Regions from separate parts of the Homo sapiens genome. Here region 1 is linked to region 2. Evidence: fine-mapped expression QTL. Tissue or cell type: whole blood. Region 2 holds a variant in brackets; the other region holds the start of a gene. All regions are shown on one strand. Distances are between the middles of the regions.

Region 1 (8,467 bases), 88 kb before region 2:
TCCTTTAACTCCCTCCTCACCAATGCAGACTTCAGTACCTGGTTTTTATTCTTATCACATGCCACTGATTTAAATGTCAATGTGAATGGCTTATCTAATACTGCAGTCTGGACTCACAGTTCTTCGTCAAGTCTAATGACCTTTATTTTCCTTTCACTTCTGGTATTCACCTCTACAGCGGCATGCTGGGTGGTTATACTCAGAACCACTCCATCTCAACTCTCACACTCAGTTATCCCACTGTCTGAAAATACACCTCTTTGAAAATATACCTCTTCTGTCCGGAAGTCTCACACTGTGAGGACTTCAGGTTTATTATTCTTTCAATTTATCATCCCTTCCTTTATTTGCCAATGAATCTCACAACCACGCAGGTAAATGCCTTTATAAATTTCTGATCTTCACCTTCAGCTGACTCCTCAACAGTGTTCACCTGTTTTCAGGTGAACATTCCCCAGAAATGCTATCTCAAAATTTGAAAGTCCTACTGCTTTCCACAGTAGACCCCTTCCACTTATACTGGATAATCTCTACTTCACCTATTCTTGCTTTTGTCCCTTCCCTTCACCTACAATCTAGATCCCATTCTCTTGTGCCTCCTCAGGCAAATCACAGTATCTTTTTATTTTTTTCCTGTATCGCTCTGGGTGCGCAAGTCAATAACTGGCATCACTATTTTCCACTTTCCACTCTCACACTCTACACTGTTAGCAGTTTTCCTTATTCTCTCAGCTATGTGTACTTTTCTTTCCTTATGGTCACTATCTACCTTTACTTATGGCTCTCAATAAACATTGCCTGGATTACTGTAAACCTCTGAACCGATTCCTCTGCCTCTCTTCTTGTCTTGCCTGATGCCTACTCTGCTTCCCAATCCATTTTTCATGTTGTCATTTAAGTAATTTTTTCCCAAATGGTCATAGAATACTATTAAACCCAAACTAAAATCCTTCAGTGTCTCTCCATATCCTTATAAAGGAGATAAAAGACACTTCATCTTTTATTAGCCTAATATCAAGCCACTACCAGGCAGTCTCTTGTATTTTGTGTTTCTGCAGTACTGAATTACTGATGTTTTATTTTATTGGCTGCTGCTCTATTCCTGTATATCTCTGGGCTTGTTCTTTCACCTGCAAGGAATACCCTTTTCTAAGTGGGTAAATGTTTTATCCTTAAAAATCCTGCTCAGGCATTACCTCCCCTGTGAACCCTTTCGTGATGTCTCTTCTCCATCCTCCTACCGTTCAACAGAAGTATGCCTTTCCATGTAGTCCTTCTTTTATTCCACGTAAACATTTCTACTACATATACTATCTTCTATTTCATATATAGGCACTATTATTAAGCTAGCGTTCTCTTCTTGCTAATTTTGCATCAGCCTTTCTCATCATATTTCAGTTTTTCTTTGTAACCTCAGTGTGTATCAGCCTTTCTCGTCGTATTTCAGTTTGTCTTTGTATCCTCAGTTTCTAGCACATAAACATAGGTCTTCAAAACCTTTGCTGAGCTGAACTGAGCTGAATGAAACTAAGTCATTATTATAGCTTTTAACACAGGGGTTTCTAACCACTGCCCTCCCCCAGACCCCAGACTGGTACTGGTCATTGGCCTGTTAGGAAACAAGCCACACAGCAGGAGGTGAGTGGCAGGTGAGTGACTGAAGCTTCATCTGCATTTACAGCCCCTCCCCATTGCTGGCATTACTGCCTGAGCTCTGCTGCCTGTCAGATCAACAGTGGCCCATAGGAGTGTGAACCCTATTGTAAACTGCACATGCGAGGGATCTAGGTCGTGTGCTCCTTATAAGAATCTAATGCCTGATGATCTGAGGTGAAACAGTTTCATCCCAAAACCATACCCCGCCCTTCCAGTCATCCACGAAACCAGCCCCTGGTGCTAACAATGTTGGGGACCACTGTTTTAACACATTCCTATAATAATTATGAGCATCTGTGTTGTGTGTTTGTTAGTGTATCCTTCATAAAATGCTTCGTAAATGTTTGAGGAATAAATGAATAAAAGGCGACTATTGGCAGGAGGTTGGCAAGGAAATCATTTGGTAAACATGAGATAATGCTACCTCTTCAGCTTTCTGAGTTGCCAGGCTTTCAGTGGCACCACCCAGATTTAACAATTAATTTACTGAGTTGAAATTGTCTGTTTGCATATCTGCACCCTCACTAAACAGCACATACCATGAGATCAAGTAACCAGTTTGTATGTGTGTGTGTGTAGTTCTAGGTACTGTGAAAGTGGAGTTAAATAAAATATGAAAATATAAGTTTAAATAAAACCTCTACTTATAAGTAGTAAGACACATTATAAATTATTATCCTTCTAACTGGGATATCTATTTCCACTGTTGCTTTTTCTCAATCCATTCTCCAATTCTTTGAGTGGCCAGAGCAGGGCAGGAAGCAGGGATGGGGGGCGGTGACCAAAGTAAATATTTACTTAGAATAAGAAAATCAGTGACAACAAATTACAGATTTTTAAAAAGATGATAAATACCACAAATATTTTAGAAATTCAGTAAAATGATATTTTAAATTAACTACCTGAACCATTGCTATGTTTTTCCTATATTTTTAGTTTTCATTTTTTTATTGCCTCATCATTTGACAGTAATTTTGTAATGCACTTTCCCTGGTGATAATGAATAATGTGGTAGTCTTTTCAAAGCAAAGTTAGTCAACATGTATTTTTTGTTATTGAAAGCTTAAAAAAGTTATTGCAGTTTCACAATTTGTTATTGGTAATAATGCCAATTTTTAGTATTGCTAAATTTGGGGAAACTCATCTTAAGGTTCTTAGGTGAACTCTGTGATTTCAGGGCACTTCAAGTTTTCTCAGGCAGTGACTAACCTTTAAGTTGCTAAAAGTCATTAACCTGTTTGTTGTCAAGTTCTTGTTGTAAAGGTATGAATTCTAGATTATCCTTGTAGATGCCAAAATTTTATGTCATTATCAATAAGATTTTGAAAAGTTTCGATATGTTTATATGGTTCATTTTTCTTCCTCAATTATCAAAAAATCAAGGAGTCTGTCTAGTCTAATTTCTCTCTTCCTCTCAATAAATTACTAATACTGATCTGAATTGGAATTCTTCCAATTTACATTTTTGTCACAATAGTTTCTACTGACTTCATACAGTGATATGCACAAAATAATTTTATTGTAAGATGTATATAAAATTATACATGCTTCATTGTTAAGTATATTCCTGAAGAAGAAAACTTCTGTTGTGACTAGATGGATGAGAACCACATCCTGCACTTAAGATTTTCTACATCTGGTGGTTGGAATATATTGATTCCACTGTGCAGACTTCTGGTGCCTCACCCCAAGGGATGCCCTTTTATCATGACCCATCTCTGACCCTGGACCCTAGGTCTCTGATGCCAGGCGAGTTGTCTCAGTGGATAGTAGGAGTGTTTCTGGAAGCCATTTCTAAACGGAGACAGCTCCAATAACTTGACTATACATGGAAGTGCTTGTGAAACTTCATACCTTCCAAAATGGTAAATCCTGATAGTGCCCCACTTAAAACCGTTCAGTGTTTGCCAGTGCATTTTCAACTGTCCTTTTGGTGCTTGGGGACGTGAGGGACTGCCACCTCCACGTCCCTCAGTACAAGCAGACAGTCCCCCTCTGGGGACACTCAAAGATAATGAAAAATTAGCAAAAGGATTGAAGGTGAAGATTAAAAAGAAATGATTCGGATGGAGTTGCCTTAATTCATTTTGTTCCTTTCAGGATGGCAGTCTGTGTGAAACGCTGTATCCCTGGTCTGAGGTAAACCAGGTCTCAAACATCTTCCTCCCTGCCAACCCGAATCCCGACACCCACTAAATGCACCAAGGGGAAAGCAGCGCCTGCCAGCAGCTCTGACGGGGGACAGGAGTAGGGTGGACTCAGTCGTCAGCACGACGGCGGCCTCCCTCACAGAGGCGGCCTCCCTCACAGACGCTGCCTGGAACCCGCCGCCAAGCCCCCAGCAGGCGGCCCGCCTGGCGCCTCCCAGTCTTCGCACAAGCAGGGCCACGGTCTGGGGCCCCCAAGGCCGTTCACGCGGGCGCGCCCCGTCGAGGGCTAGCCTGTCAGCGCCTCACTCGCGGCCTCCTACCCTAGACGACCGGCTCTGGGTGGCGCCGCTCCAACCCCACGCGCCCAGCTCGCCCGGGAAAGCGCGCGCCACCCTTTTAACGGTTCTACCCCGGCAGGGGTGCGGCTGCTCTCGAGGCTCAGCGCCCGAGGCCACGCCCCGCGCCCGCCCTGGGCCCGCCTCGTGCCCCTCGGAGCCGCCTCCCGCCCCGCCCCCCGCCCCTCGCCCCCCGCCCCTCGCCCCCCGCCGCCGCCACCGCGGTCAGCCAGCGGACCAGCGGCAGGAGCCGTTCCCCGACGGGCAGCAGGGCGCTCGGCCTCCGCGTGTGGGCTGAGCGCGGCGACGCTGCTGCCCCGAAATCCCCGTGGATTTTGAGTCGGTAAGTGGCTAGGGAGGATGAGCGACACTGGGGGACGGAAGTCGGGCCCCGTGGTGTGGAGGAGGCGGGTGGGCGCCGTCTCCCAGGCCCGACCCCGGGAAAGTTGAGGCGAGGAAGAGAAGCTCTGAGGTGGGTCGGGAAATCTCTCAGGGCCCCTTCAGTACCCTGTGGACCCTGAATGGGAGTGGGATGGGAGCGAGAGCGTCGGATGAGGGGAAAGAAAGTGTAGGGGGCCAGGGGAGCCCGACGGAGGGGCAAGTGGCCGAGACCAAAGCCATCGCCAAAAAAGGAGCTAAGTACACAGCTCCCCTTGGCTCTGCCCCAGCACCTGGTGCCAGGCGGTGGGAGGCTTTCAAGACGATTTGCCCCCTCCACCCGGTGGCACAAGGTTTTCATTGCTGGTGTTTTAGTCAAAGCTACGGAAAGGACAGTTACATGACTAAAGTAATCACAGACACCTATTACCTGGACAGCTTTAGCCCATCCGAATGTTAAATTGTGTTTTGTTTTGAGAAATCCCTCAAATAGACCAAAAAAAAAATTAAATTAGTTATAAAGAGAAGGCATGAAATGGAAGATATGTTGGAACTCTCCAAGCTTCTAGTTTTTTGATATTTTCGTTTTAATTTTTCCTTAATAGTGCAACCAGATATATGGAACGTGAAATGTCTTTCACCACTTGAGTCATAGGTGGTTTATTTCTTACTCCCCGATGTTTCCTGTATGTTTCTCTTCATCTATCATTTTGTCAGTGTGAGCAGTTTACTTACAAGCAGTATTGGGTTTCAAGGAATCCTAACTTTGTAATGTTTTGAAGTTGGAAATTGAGATGAAATTTTATCTGGTTATCATATGGGAATTATACACAAGGTAAATTCAAATATGGTCTTTTCATTTCATTATTTCACTTTATATGATCTTATTTCTCAACGGCAGCGGTAGCATCAGTACTTTCCAAAGAAGACTAGAATTTATATTGGAGTTTAAGTATAGTACTCAGCTTCTAAAAACAGTGCATAGTATATTTCATATGCTGTGATCTATGGTTAGTATGGCAGTATACCATGTCTGTAGCGTGAGGAAAGCACAGTACTCCCTAATTTATTTAGTATTCTAAGAAAAATGGTAAATTGAAGAAATGGATATTATTAGCATATACCAATTTATTCTGCATGGCCTTATAAATAAATGTTACTTTTCACATTAATTTTTAAATCTATACACGCAGTGTCCACATGTAATAAATGGACAGTCAGATATCTTTCTTTTATGTAACAAATAGGCAAGTTTTGATATAAAGGTGTGAACTTTGTAGTCAAATCCTAATATCTAGCACTTAGTAGCTATGTGGACTTGGGCATGTCTCTTATTTTTCTGAGCCTCAGGTTTCTTATCTGTGAAGTGGGACTAATAATAATTTTCTTCCACCGTTCATATATGGCTCAAAATTAAATGAAATTATATTTAGTATGTAGTAGGACCTTAAAAAGGCATCTTAATTAAAAAATAAGATTAATAAGATTTTGGCCAAAGTGGTCAATGTATCTGCTTATTATCCCATTGTATTTTAGACAATTCTAGGTTTACTGGTAATATCAGGACTGATAAGGCCTGAAGATTCATACTTAGGTAAATTTTTTAAAAAGAAAAGGAACCTAAGATATAGTTAGTATTGCCAGGTGTAGAATAGCAACTGTAAATAACTAACTGATTTACCAATATTCTATTCATACAACTTGGTCTTTAAAGATGATTTGTTAAGTGTGTGTGATCTTGAAAAAAACTATTCAGCAACCATTTCTCAGTATGTATTAATAGAAAGTTTTTTTGGAGACATTGGATCAAAATATCCTTTAAAAAACATTTATACCACAAAACTATACATTTACATTTTTAAATTTACATTTTACAACCTTATGATAGGCCCACTACTTGCTACCCAATGTTGTAGGCAGAATTCTGTTTATTTTGTAACTGTGCTTTGAATCGTTGATATGATACATGGCTACTCTAGGTAGCACCAGTAGCTTCAAGGGAAACTTTTTGATCTCTACATTCCATGGATGAAGCAGGCATTAGAGTTTAAGACTGAATTTGTTTTGTATAATGACTTTGTAGTGCAGTTAAGTCTTTATTATTTTTAACTAAACTGAGAATTAGGTTTTGGTTTATGGAGTTCTGCCTTAATTATAATCTCGTGACTCAGTTTTACAATAATAATTACTTTTTATAAATACTTAACCTTTTTCATTAATAACATGATGGTGGAATGTACTATGCATTGTAATCCCAAACTTGTCCCCTATAATGTCAGTGTTTCCCTGCAGGCATCGTTTACTTTAAAAAAAAATATTAAACAGAGTACTGAATGACACCATCTTTTCTAATTTCCTTAACTGATGTGGATTTATATACAGGGAGCCATTGCTGTATCTTTCCTACTGTAAATTGAAGGGTAGGTGGCACCAAAAGAGCTTTGATTTTTTGTTTATTTACTTGTGTTGCAAAGTCATATAATGGAGTTCTGTAATCCCCAACTCTTGAAAATCCCTAGTTTGAATACTGTGGATTTGCCTTGCTCAGCGATTGGAAAAGACTTAACAACCTACAACTAAATTTCAGCTGAGCAATGAAAAACAACGAAGTGTGTGCCAAAGTACTCTATCCTATTGTATTCTGATTCACTAGTTTCATATGGGGAACAGGATGGAAAGTTACTACATACTAGTATTAGGGTCTTAACTAAAATAGCTAGGATAAACATCAAATAAAGCAATGTATATTAGGTTGCTTTTTGGTCCTTATTTTAAATATACTCTTCTACATAGAAAATATTAATAACTTTATTTGAAGTATTTTTTCTATTTGTGCTTATAACTTTTTTTTCATCTTGTTATATCCAATTGTATTGCACAAAAAGTACAGAGAGCATTAGTTTTGCCACGTTGAAATACTAGCTAACAGACACATTACAAAGCTGGGTTGGTATTAACTTGAAGTACTTGCTGGGTTATCTCCAAATAGTAACTTTTGGGTGCTTACTTATCATTCCTAATTTTGAGAGGTTGTTTATAAGTTTATAATTTTAACATTTGAATTATACATGTCCAAAGATATTTAAAAAATAGGATAAAGCATTTCTGGGAACTTAAAGGGTTACTAACTCTATCTTATACTTGGTGAAATAGGCACTTAGACTTATGATTTGCTTAATATCATATGGTTACAATTATTTCTGGATAAGCAGGTGCAAAATCAAGTGGAGTTTTATTTTTGACTTTGTCTTGATGGGCATCAAAATTTGGAAATCTTGTGTCCCATACAGGTGTCAGATTTTAGTTGCAATGACGAGGTACTTAGCGTTTATAGAGTTTATTTAATAAATCTATGTTGCAGATACTAGAATACAAAAATAAATAAGGTCTGGTTTTTGTGGCCTCAACTAACTGATAGTCCAATAAGTAGACATGTAATATATTTACTGTGATATATTTTAGAAAAAGTGATAAAATACAGTAGGGACCAGTGAAGGAGGAATGTAAGGAAGGAGGAATTATTATTATTGTTATTATTATTTTATTATTAGAGAACTTCATGTAGACTATTTTATTTAACCTTACCTGTTGAGACAGGGGGATATTTTCCAAGGAAGTGGCAAGAGCTTGATCTTGGTCTTGACAGATAAATAGCTGTTTGGAAGAAGAGCAGCAGAGATAGTAAGGGAACTATAGACAAAACACTTGAATGTCCAAATATATGGTGAAACAAAATAACATTAATATTTTGGAAGTAGCGTGAACAGAAATTAAAGACTGATTTTGGAATCAGAGGCTCTAATTTAGCCCATCAAATTGAAGGCAGTTTTACCAAGTGTGGTCCAAGGGAGTTGGTGATGACTTTAAAGGAATACAGGAGTTAAAGTTATTAATTAGATTTTAGATATGTTGAATTTGAGGTACCTGTGATAATATATAAATTGAAAT
Region 2 (8,467 bases):
TCCTCCATTAAATGTGTGTAACTACAAGGCTCAAGTTAGTGTGAGAGAGCGATACTATTCAATTAATGACAAGAACAGAGTATACATAGTCTGTTGAAGCGAAAAACAAAATTCAGGGTCAAATGGTCGTACTATACAAATTTCACAGGCAATCAGCAAACCCACTAAAGACATAGAGCTAGAAGGAACCACTGAATACAAATTGCTCATTTTCAAAAGGAAGGCCAGATAAATTAAGGAGACTTGCTGAAGACCACATAGCTCTCCTCGGCTAGACTAGAATACTGGTGTCATTTTCCTGCACCATTTTATCAAAAGATGTTTAAAGCACAAAACACGAAAAGCTTTTCGATTGTTCCCAGGTCTGTGTTAAACATACCTGGAGAGAAACAGTGGGTTCTAGTCTCATGAGGCTACAAGGGTCAAAGGCTCTTGATTATAAAACTGTGCCCTTGAGGGCACCGCTGGAAGGAAAGCTTTTCAAAGCTGAAAACCAGCAATTAAAAAAGGAAAGGAAACATCATCTATTTAAGCTGAGAGTAGCAAAAAGGCAGCATAATTTATAAACACCATTTTTTTTTTTTTTTTAACAGAGAGACTTAAATCATATCAGCCTCAGAAGGTTTTTCTCAAAAAGGTTTAACTGCCTTCAGGAAAAGATTTATCAAAGCCTATGCTGGAATGAATATCTCCAGGCTGCCAGTTGTTTAATTAATAATTTTATATTCATCTTTTATATTTGAGATAGGTTTTCTGTGTTTTATATTAGAGCACTAAAAAATATTAATGTTGAAGGGTAAATTTTTAGATTCTAATTTATAACTTCACTCTGCCTCAGTCTATTTTTTACCACTGAAATAAAAATGTTCAAGTATTTAGACTGATTAAAGTACCTTTATCTTACTGAAAAATCATCAAGAAACTGCTGGAGCAAAACTAATTCAGTTATTATACAAACAACAAAAAGAAATTTCAAGTAGGCACTTTGAGCCCCAGGCTTGGGGTCATATAAAAAAATGACAAAGAGTATAAGAGCGTGATGAAACCCTGACAGGGATCTTGATTATTTCTTACAAAAGCATTCATTTTAATCAGGGGCTTAGATTTTGCTCCTTTGCCATGGCAACAGATAAAGAATCCTGTACCTGGAAGGTTATAGTGATAGTCTTAATTATGCTCCCAAGAGGCATTGTGTTAACAGTTTAGTGATTGGAAGGGAAAGAACTAATTCTACCCAATTCTGAATAATACTTTTCCTACCCTTATAGAGGATAAGATTCTACACTGGGTTATGGGCTTTGCCATTGACTCATACTATGATTTTAGGCAAGTCTACTAACCCCTTTGTGTTTGTTTTCTCAAATATATGAAATGAGAACATGGGGCTCAGTTTCCATCCTGGAACTGGCTAAGTCTGTGTTCACTGGTTCATCTAGAGTTGAAGAAGAAAAGAACCATTTTTCCTCTTTGTTCCATTGGTGAAGCAATTCTGTCATGCCTACTCTACCCTTCTGTTGTTACTTTCTGGCCTCAAAAGTGATCAATGTGGGAAGATTCAGAGTACACAGAATTATGCTTGTTCTGTTGTGTGTAGCTTGACATTTCACATGACCCTTGAATCATCCCATATTGGTATATAAAGACTAAGGTCAGTTGCTCTACTCCCGAACAACTGCCTATTTTACTAATGAAATGAAAATAATTCTAATAAGGAAAATGCAGCAACACTAAGTTTACTCATAGAGAAAGGCAGGGGAAAGGTTCATGCCTTTACAGCACTGTATTAAACACTAAGGTACTCTTCAAGGCTCCCCATTGAGTGCTCATTGTTGTTTTAGTAATGCTTATTATTCTCACTAGTGTATCAGACTGTAGGGAGGAAGGAATGTTTCCTTTCTTCCTACATACTGTGCAGTTAAGGTCCCAGAATATTCTGAAAATAATATTTTCAGAACTATTCTGTTTCAATATTTTCAATAGTTTCAAACTATTATGTTTAGCTTCATGCTGGTATAAGAAACAAGCACCCACCTGAATTATGAGTTTCTTATGACAAAGAAGGAAGCATTGTAAACCTTTCTGAATCAAAGGTATAATAAACACATACAAAAATCAAATGTACTGTACAATATCACACACATGAGGGACAAGATTTGAGCATCAACATATTTTAAACTATGGCAAAGCTAAACCTAGGGAATTGGTTTTTGGTTCATCACTATTTCTTTCTGCACATCTCTCTGTTCCAGAGTTTCTAAACTTGCTCCAGCTCAAATAAATTTTGGGTCCCATCTCTTTACTTTTAGTGAGCTTTTAACTACCCTCTGCTAAGTTATTCAGTAACTAGGACTTTAGATCTTTCTATTCCCAGGGATATTTACTTTTAAAAACTTGTAAAGACTAGACTCTTAAAGACTGAAAAACCTTTGAGAGTAAGAGAAGTGGATCTTTAAAGCTGAATTTTCACAGATTCTTGAATTTTTGCCCATGTTCCTCAAATCACATCCTGGTATACACTATGGCAGTCACCAAGGGACCACAGAGAGAAACTGTTTTAAGTATGCTTAACTACCCATCTCCAGCTGCCACACCTTGGGGATCAGCAGTGTTCATGCTGAAGCCACATCCTCTCCAGTATTCCTTGCCAAGGACTAAGGATGGTGTAAGTCAGGGGGGACTCCTCTTATGAGCAGTCTTTGCCCTCGGGCGTCCCACTGGCATAGCCAAAACTTTGTCAGAGGCTCTCTGCCAGCCCAACTTCCATTTCCTCCTCTTTTCACAGGTGCCAGACCTGCAGGGCAGCCTGAAGGATCTTCCCACTGCTCTTGTTCCCTCTCCCCTTTACCTTCCAAGGGCATTTCTCCCAACATATCTCTTGCACTTGGCTTCTGTTTCTAGAGGATTTGAGCAGACACAGTATTCCATAAATACTTGTGCCACATGAACGAATCTCAGTTGGGATGAGACAAATGAACTATTAGGAAGGTGAAGAGAGAGCTGAGGAAAGTAGATTGTGTACCTACCATGTACCAGGTGCCTGACTGTGAGAGTGACTCAGTGCAGTTGGGCTAAAAGACTAATTGAGATAATGTATGCACTGTGGTCAACATGTATTATGCTCAATAAATAGTAGCTGTCTCTTTCTCAATAAACACTGAATTAAGTGTGAAAAGGACAGATGGGTATGAGATACTGGGCATTATAGAAGATGCAATGAGCCAGGCAAGAGAAGAAGACAGGGGTATTGGAATAGGAAGCACAGTCCAAGCAGCAACTAGGCTTCAAACTCACTTGGAGCTGCTACTTCTGTTGAAGTTTTAGGCCTTCTGGAGACTGTCAGTTCTAGGTGGCCCCAAATATCAAATGTGTTAATTTTTTAGGGTCCTGTGGTTTTACAGATTCCCAAATAGTTAATATGATGTCTAATCTCAGTGAAATGGGACAATATTGATTTAAATACAAAAGTTGTGCTACTCTAAGTCTAAAGACAAGGCTATATTTTAAATTTGGATTTGGGGCACTGAGTGGTGGTAGTGATGGAAGAGGGGAGGTGAGACTTGAGAGAGAGCATTGGGGTGAGCCTTGACTTCCTATCTAAACTTATTCTCATGGGAGCAGCCAGGCTTGGTAGTTCTTTTTTCCACTATCACTCAAAATGCAGCCTGATAGTGAGGTGTGTAATCATGGGCTTTTCTCAACTGTAATTTGATTACAGAGATGTTCTATAGGCAAGGAACAAATTTGA[G/A]GTCATATTACCTCCAAAGAAGATACAGGCTATAAGTAGGAAAGCTACTACAGAAAATGACAGAGGATAAAAAGCTTATAAAGAGATGATAATCTTATTCTGTAGCAATAGTAAAACATAAAAAGGAATTATTCTTTAAATCAAATGATTACTCTCACAGCCATTTAAATCATCTGCCAACAGTGACTTACAGGAGGTAAGTCCTGATTTCTTTTAGTAAATTAAGCCTACAAATGAAGGCATTCTTCATTTATTTCACGCCAATACACTTGCCACAAGCATTATCAGTTGAGTCTCCTAAAGTGTCATTTTTGAAACGTTAATAAGTTCATTTACATTTTCCCCAGACCACTGGGGGTCAATTTTCACTTGTCTATGCATATTATTTGACTGCTCTTTGAAATGCAATAAACTTTTCAAAGAATTGATAGTTTTTTGTTTTACTTTGTTTTTTAAACATAAGATAGTATTACATTTCAGCATTGCTGAAGCATGCAATCTGATAGTCTGAAAAAATAATTAGAACATCCATTTCCATAACATATATAATGACATAGCCATCTTAATTTTTTATTGAAACCATTGAGCCAGATACATTTCAAAGTTCAGAATTTTTCAGGGTCTAGAGAGGTAACACCTAGCATATGTCATGTAATTATATAATACCCACAGCAGGGTCTAGAGCAGTACCCTGTAATGACCATATTGGTAGTTTTGCAGCAAAATTCTTAATATTAAAATAGATTTTGCTACCAAATGGACTTTGGTGCTAAGTTTACCAAACAACAACAACAAAACCAAAACATTCCATTTTCAGAAGCTTTTGGATTTTGGAATCGCAGATAAGTGGTGGACCTATAGTAAATCTGTGCCCCTCAAAGGATCCTCTTAAGGATTGTGGGAACCGAAGAGGAAGAGTTGCCAATAATTTGGCTTGTAATTGAAGAAGAAAATTTTATTGCTGCTTTCTACCTGCTAAATTCTTTTTTTTAATTATTTTTTTTAAATTTTCTTTTTCTCAGCAAAGCAAGGTACTTCTATATAGAAGGAACAATGGAGTGCACACTTGGAGAAGGGAGGGCAAGGGGTTCTTATCCCTGACGCACGTCACCCCTGCTGCTGTGTCGTTCCCCTATTGGCTAGGGTTAGACCTCACAGGCTAAACTAATTCTAATTGGCTAATTTAAAGAGAATGAAGTGGTGAGTGCTTTGGCGGGAGTCAGGGCAGAGCAGGTAGCAGGTAATCAGAATGAGTTAGGGTGGAGCAGGTGATCCGAATGAGTTAGAGTGGAGTAGGTAATCGGAATGAGTCAGGGTGGAGTAGGTAATCAGGATGAGTCAGGGTGGAGTAGATAATCGAAAAAGATTGCTTTACGAGGAAGTTAAGTTTAAAAGTAGAAGGCAGAGAATTGAACATACTGACGTATTAGTTTGTTTGTTTTTTTTGTTTTTGTTTTTGTTTTTGTTTTTTTTTGAGACGGAGTCTCGCTCTGTCGCCCAGGCTGGAGTGCAGTGGCACGATCTCGGTTCACTGCAAGCTCCGCCTCCCGGGTTCCCGCCATTCTTCTGCCTCAGCCTCCTGAGTAGCTGGGACTACAGGCACCCGCCACCACGCCCGGCTAATTTTTTTGTATTTTTAGTAGAGACGGGGTTTCACCATGTTAGCCAGGATGGTCTCGATCTCCTGACCTTGTGATCCGCCTGCCTCGGCCTCCCAAAGTGCTGGGATTACAGGCGTGAACCACCTCGCCCGGCCGACATATTAATTCTTTGAAAAGAAATTTAGAACTCATACCTAACAACTCTTCCTCTTGTATTTCCTTACAGCTTTCTTTTCAAACTTTTTAAACATGTCTTAGCTTAGTTGTTTTGCTTGATTTTCCAAAAGAAGAAGCTTCTCTGGATAAGGTGGAGGATAGCTAAGGGAGGTTTTAGTAAGTGCCGTTTTTATGAACCTCTGCATCGACTTACGGATGCATGGTATGACACAGCACCCGACAAGAATAAGTATACCTATTACGGGTGTGAGGTAAATTCTTAAGACTCATCTGCAGAATGTCTCTTAGGCTGCATAAAATACAGACTTTGCACAAAACTTGGTCTAAAATGAGTAACTTGAAAAAATTATTCTCCTACTGACATCAGCTCGTTGAGCTTTAATTGTGCCTCTGATTTACATGAGAAAACATAAAAGGGAGTAGAAAGTTACAATTAAAGGAAGGAAAACAGTCCCTTTCAGCTACTGCCACAGATCTATTGTACAGAATACTTCTCTATGGAATACTTCCTCTATGGCCACAGGCCAGTTCCACTCAGCACTCCTCTCTTTGAAGAGGCCACAAATCTGACTAATTTTCATTTAACTTCATGGGGCAAGGAAGGGGGCTTCACAGAATTTCCTAATCTGTTTCTCTTTATCAAATACATAATCACTTTTTCTATCTGCTGAAAAATAAACCTGCAACAAAATGATCAAGACAGTAGAAAATGCTGTTATTATATTATTTGATTGGAGAGCAAAGGCTAATTTTTGTTTCCTATTATATTCCTTTTGATTACTAGCACATGGCAACACTCTGAACACAGTAGGTGCTTTTTGTGTCTATTAAACTGGATTTGAGGTGGCACCTGCTCTGTACATACATGCCTTTGGTTTGTTTCTTTTTTGCTTTTCAAAAGATTCCTATGCTTCCTCAGTGTTGAGACTACTTTTTCTGTTTTCTTTCTCTGGGATTCAGAGACACTGAGTTCTGCTCCTGGAGTTATTTATAGTTTTGGTAGCTAGGTCTCACATACCTCCTTTGTGCTTCCAAGAGTGTTGTAGGAGTATATGTTCTGTCACTGCAGATGATCTGTTTTCATCATATTAACAAGGAGATGGCTGACTAGGTGCTGTGCTTCCCTTTTAGTTGTTCCTTTATATTTTTATGAATTAATTTCTGTTTACTTTTGATAATTTTCTTAACAGACATTTGTGCCTCTATGCAATCATATGTGTCTGTTCCCATAAGCAGCAGCTTAGTCAATCACTCAGGGAAATACATGCATCTCTATGCATTCACCAGACTGAAGTTCTCCCAGAAACAAGCCCCTGTGCTTCATTAAACTATTGATTTGGTTGTCATAGATCAGCTGAAATGTATATCCTTAAAATGAAGGGAAGTCTCATGAAGCACTTACACTTATTATCTGTTTATCTAAAAAAATCAGCATGTAAAATTCTGACTTAAGGTTAAAATTTTCTCTGAAGGGTCAACATTCCAAATTTTTACTTAGATTATTAGTTAGCTGCTCTGTTGAATTCTCCCCTCTACCTTATAGAAATAAAATATTTTGGTTGTTGTTGTAAGAAAGAATCCATCATATCCATATAAAGCACCAAGCCACATGTTTAGCAATTGTTTCCAATAACAAAGTATGAAACTTGAGAATGACCTTGGAAGTAGAAAGATAACTAGTCCCATGACTATTATGCCTATATTGTGCCTATTATGGGCCACTTGCAGTACTAGACCCCCTACATGCATTATATCATTTTATCCTCCCAACATCTGACAATGAAAGAAATGAAGGCAAAAAGATTAACTTGGGCATATGCTAGCAAGTAGCAGAGCTAGGAATCATATCAAGTTTTTCCTAAGTATGAAATTGTTATTTCTGGAGACATCTCTCCATTTATCCCACATATTCTGATTTGTATAGTTTGGGGAGTGAGAGGTAGTTTTCCATATTTTAATGTATATAAATGACCTATGCAGAACTCAAAGGCAGAATTAACAAGGAAGTGAAAATAGTTTTATTCTTCTAATATCATGTATTTCCTTATATATTAAGGAAGAATTGGTCTCTGTTTAGCATAACCATTATTAAAAATATTTATGTGAGAAAAAATGTGTCTGGAACTGTTAGAAATATACAATTAAATATGTTATTTGTCCACTTTATATGATATTTATGCTATATGTGTCTATTTCTCCTCCTTGCTTTTTAGGTTATCAGCATGAAAATCAGCCTCTGTTTCTAAGAAATTCTAAAAATATTACTCACCTATGCCTATCATGTCCTGCCACATTATAATCTTGGTTACAGCTCTCAAAATGTCAGAGCAGATCATGAACTAAAGATGTGTCATAGGTAAAATCATTTAAAAGGCAAATTCAACATAATGAACTGAAGAAAAAAATCCAACCATGAGAATAGTTGATGTTGACTATAATTAAAAAAAAAATAGCATTCTTTACAAAATGCAAAACTGTATGAGCACTAGGATTAAAACTGCTAATCCCTTTCTTTTCCCCAGACCTCCCCAGCTAGCCATAAATTCCATCTGGCCCATTGCAGGGGGCCCTGATTGCCTCCTGCACTGCTGGAATTCAGGCAGGATGGAGATAGACAGTTTTCACCCCATGAGTTGGTGAGTTCAGAAAGAGTATTGTGTTGCTCTGGACAAGCAATCCTTCCAAATTTTAGAAACAGTCTGGGGATGTGTATTCAAGAAATCTGCTCCCTTTTCACGTTCTCCCTAGTCCCTTGGAAGGGACACCCATCTGGGCTGTCCATCTGTCCAGAATTGGATTGTGGTCGCCAAGTCGCTCTTCCCTTCCGGGTGATTGATTCATGATCATCAGTGATCTTCATCACATCCGCAGCTCCCCTGGGAGCCGATATATATTTTTAAAAATTAACTGAGTGCCTTAACTAGTAGCTGTCGGTGATACAGTG

The links. PIP is the estimated chance that this variant, and not a neighbour inherited with it, causes the effect.
Region 1: C8orf88 starts here. The variant in region 2 is fine-mapped to the expression of C8orf88 in whole blood (TOPMed, PIP above 0.99).

Annotation. Positions count from the first base shown.
Region 1 is chr8:90,981,131-90,989,597 of GRCh38, reverse strand. It overlaps C8orf88 (chromosome 8 open reading frame 88), which reads left to right and starts at 4,360. Exons shown (of 6, transcript NM_001190972.2): 1 at 4,360-4,484. RefSeq lists a silencer at 4,177-4,336.
Region 2 is chr8:90,893,357-90,901,823 of GRCh38, reverse strand. The region is part of intron 5 of NECAB1 (N-terminal EF-hand calcium binding protein 1); the gene reads right to left. The region is part of intron 1 of LOC105375634 (a long non-coding RNA gene); the gene reads left to right. Among named protein-coding and RNA genes, the nearest start is that of C8orf88, 88 kb to the left of the region's middle. The variant G/A (reference allele first, on the strand shown) is at 3,746.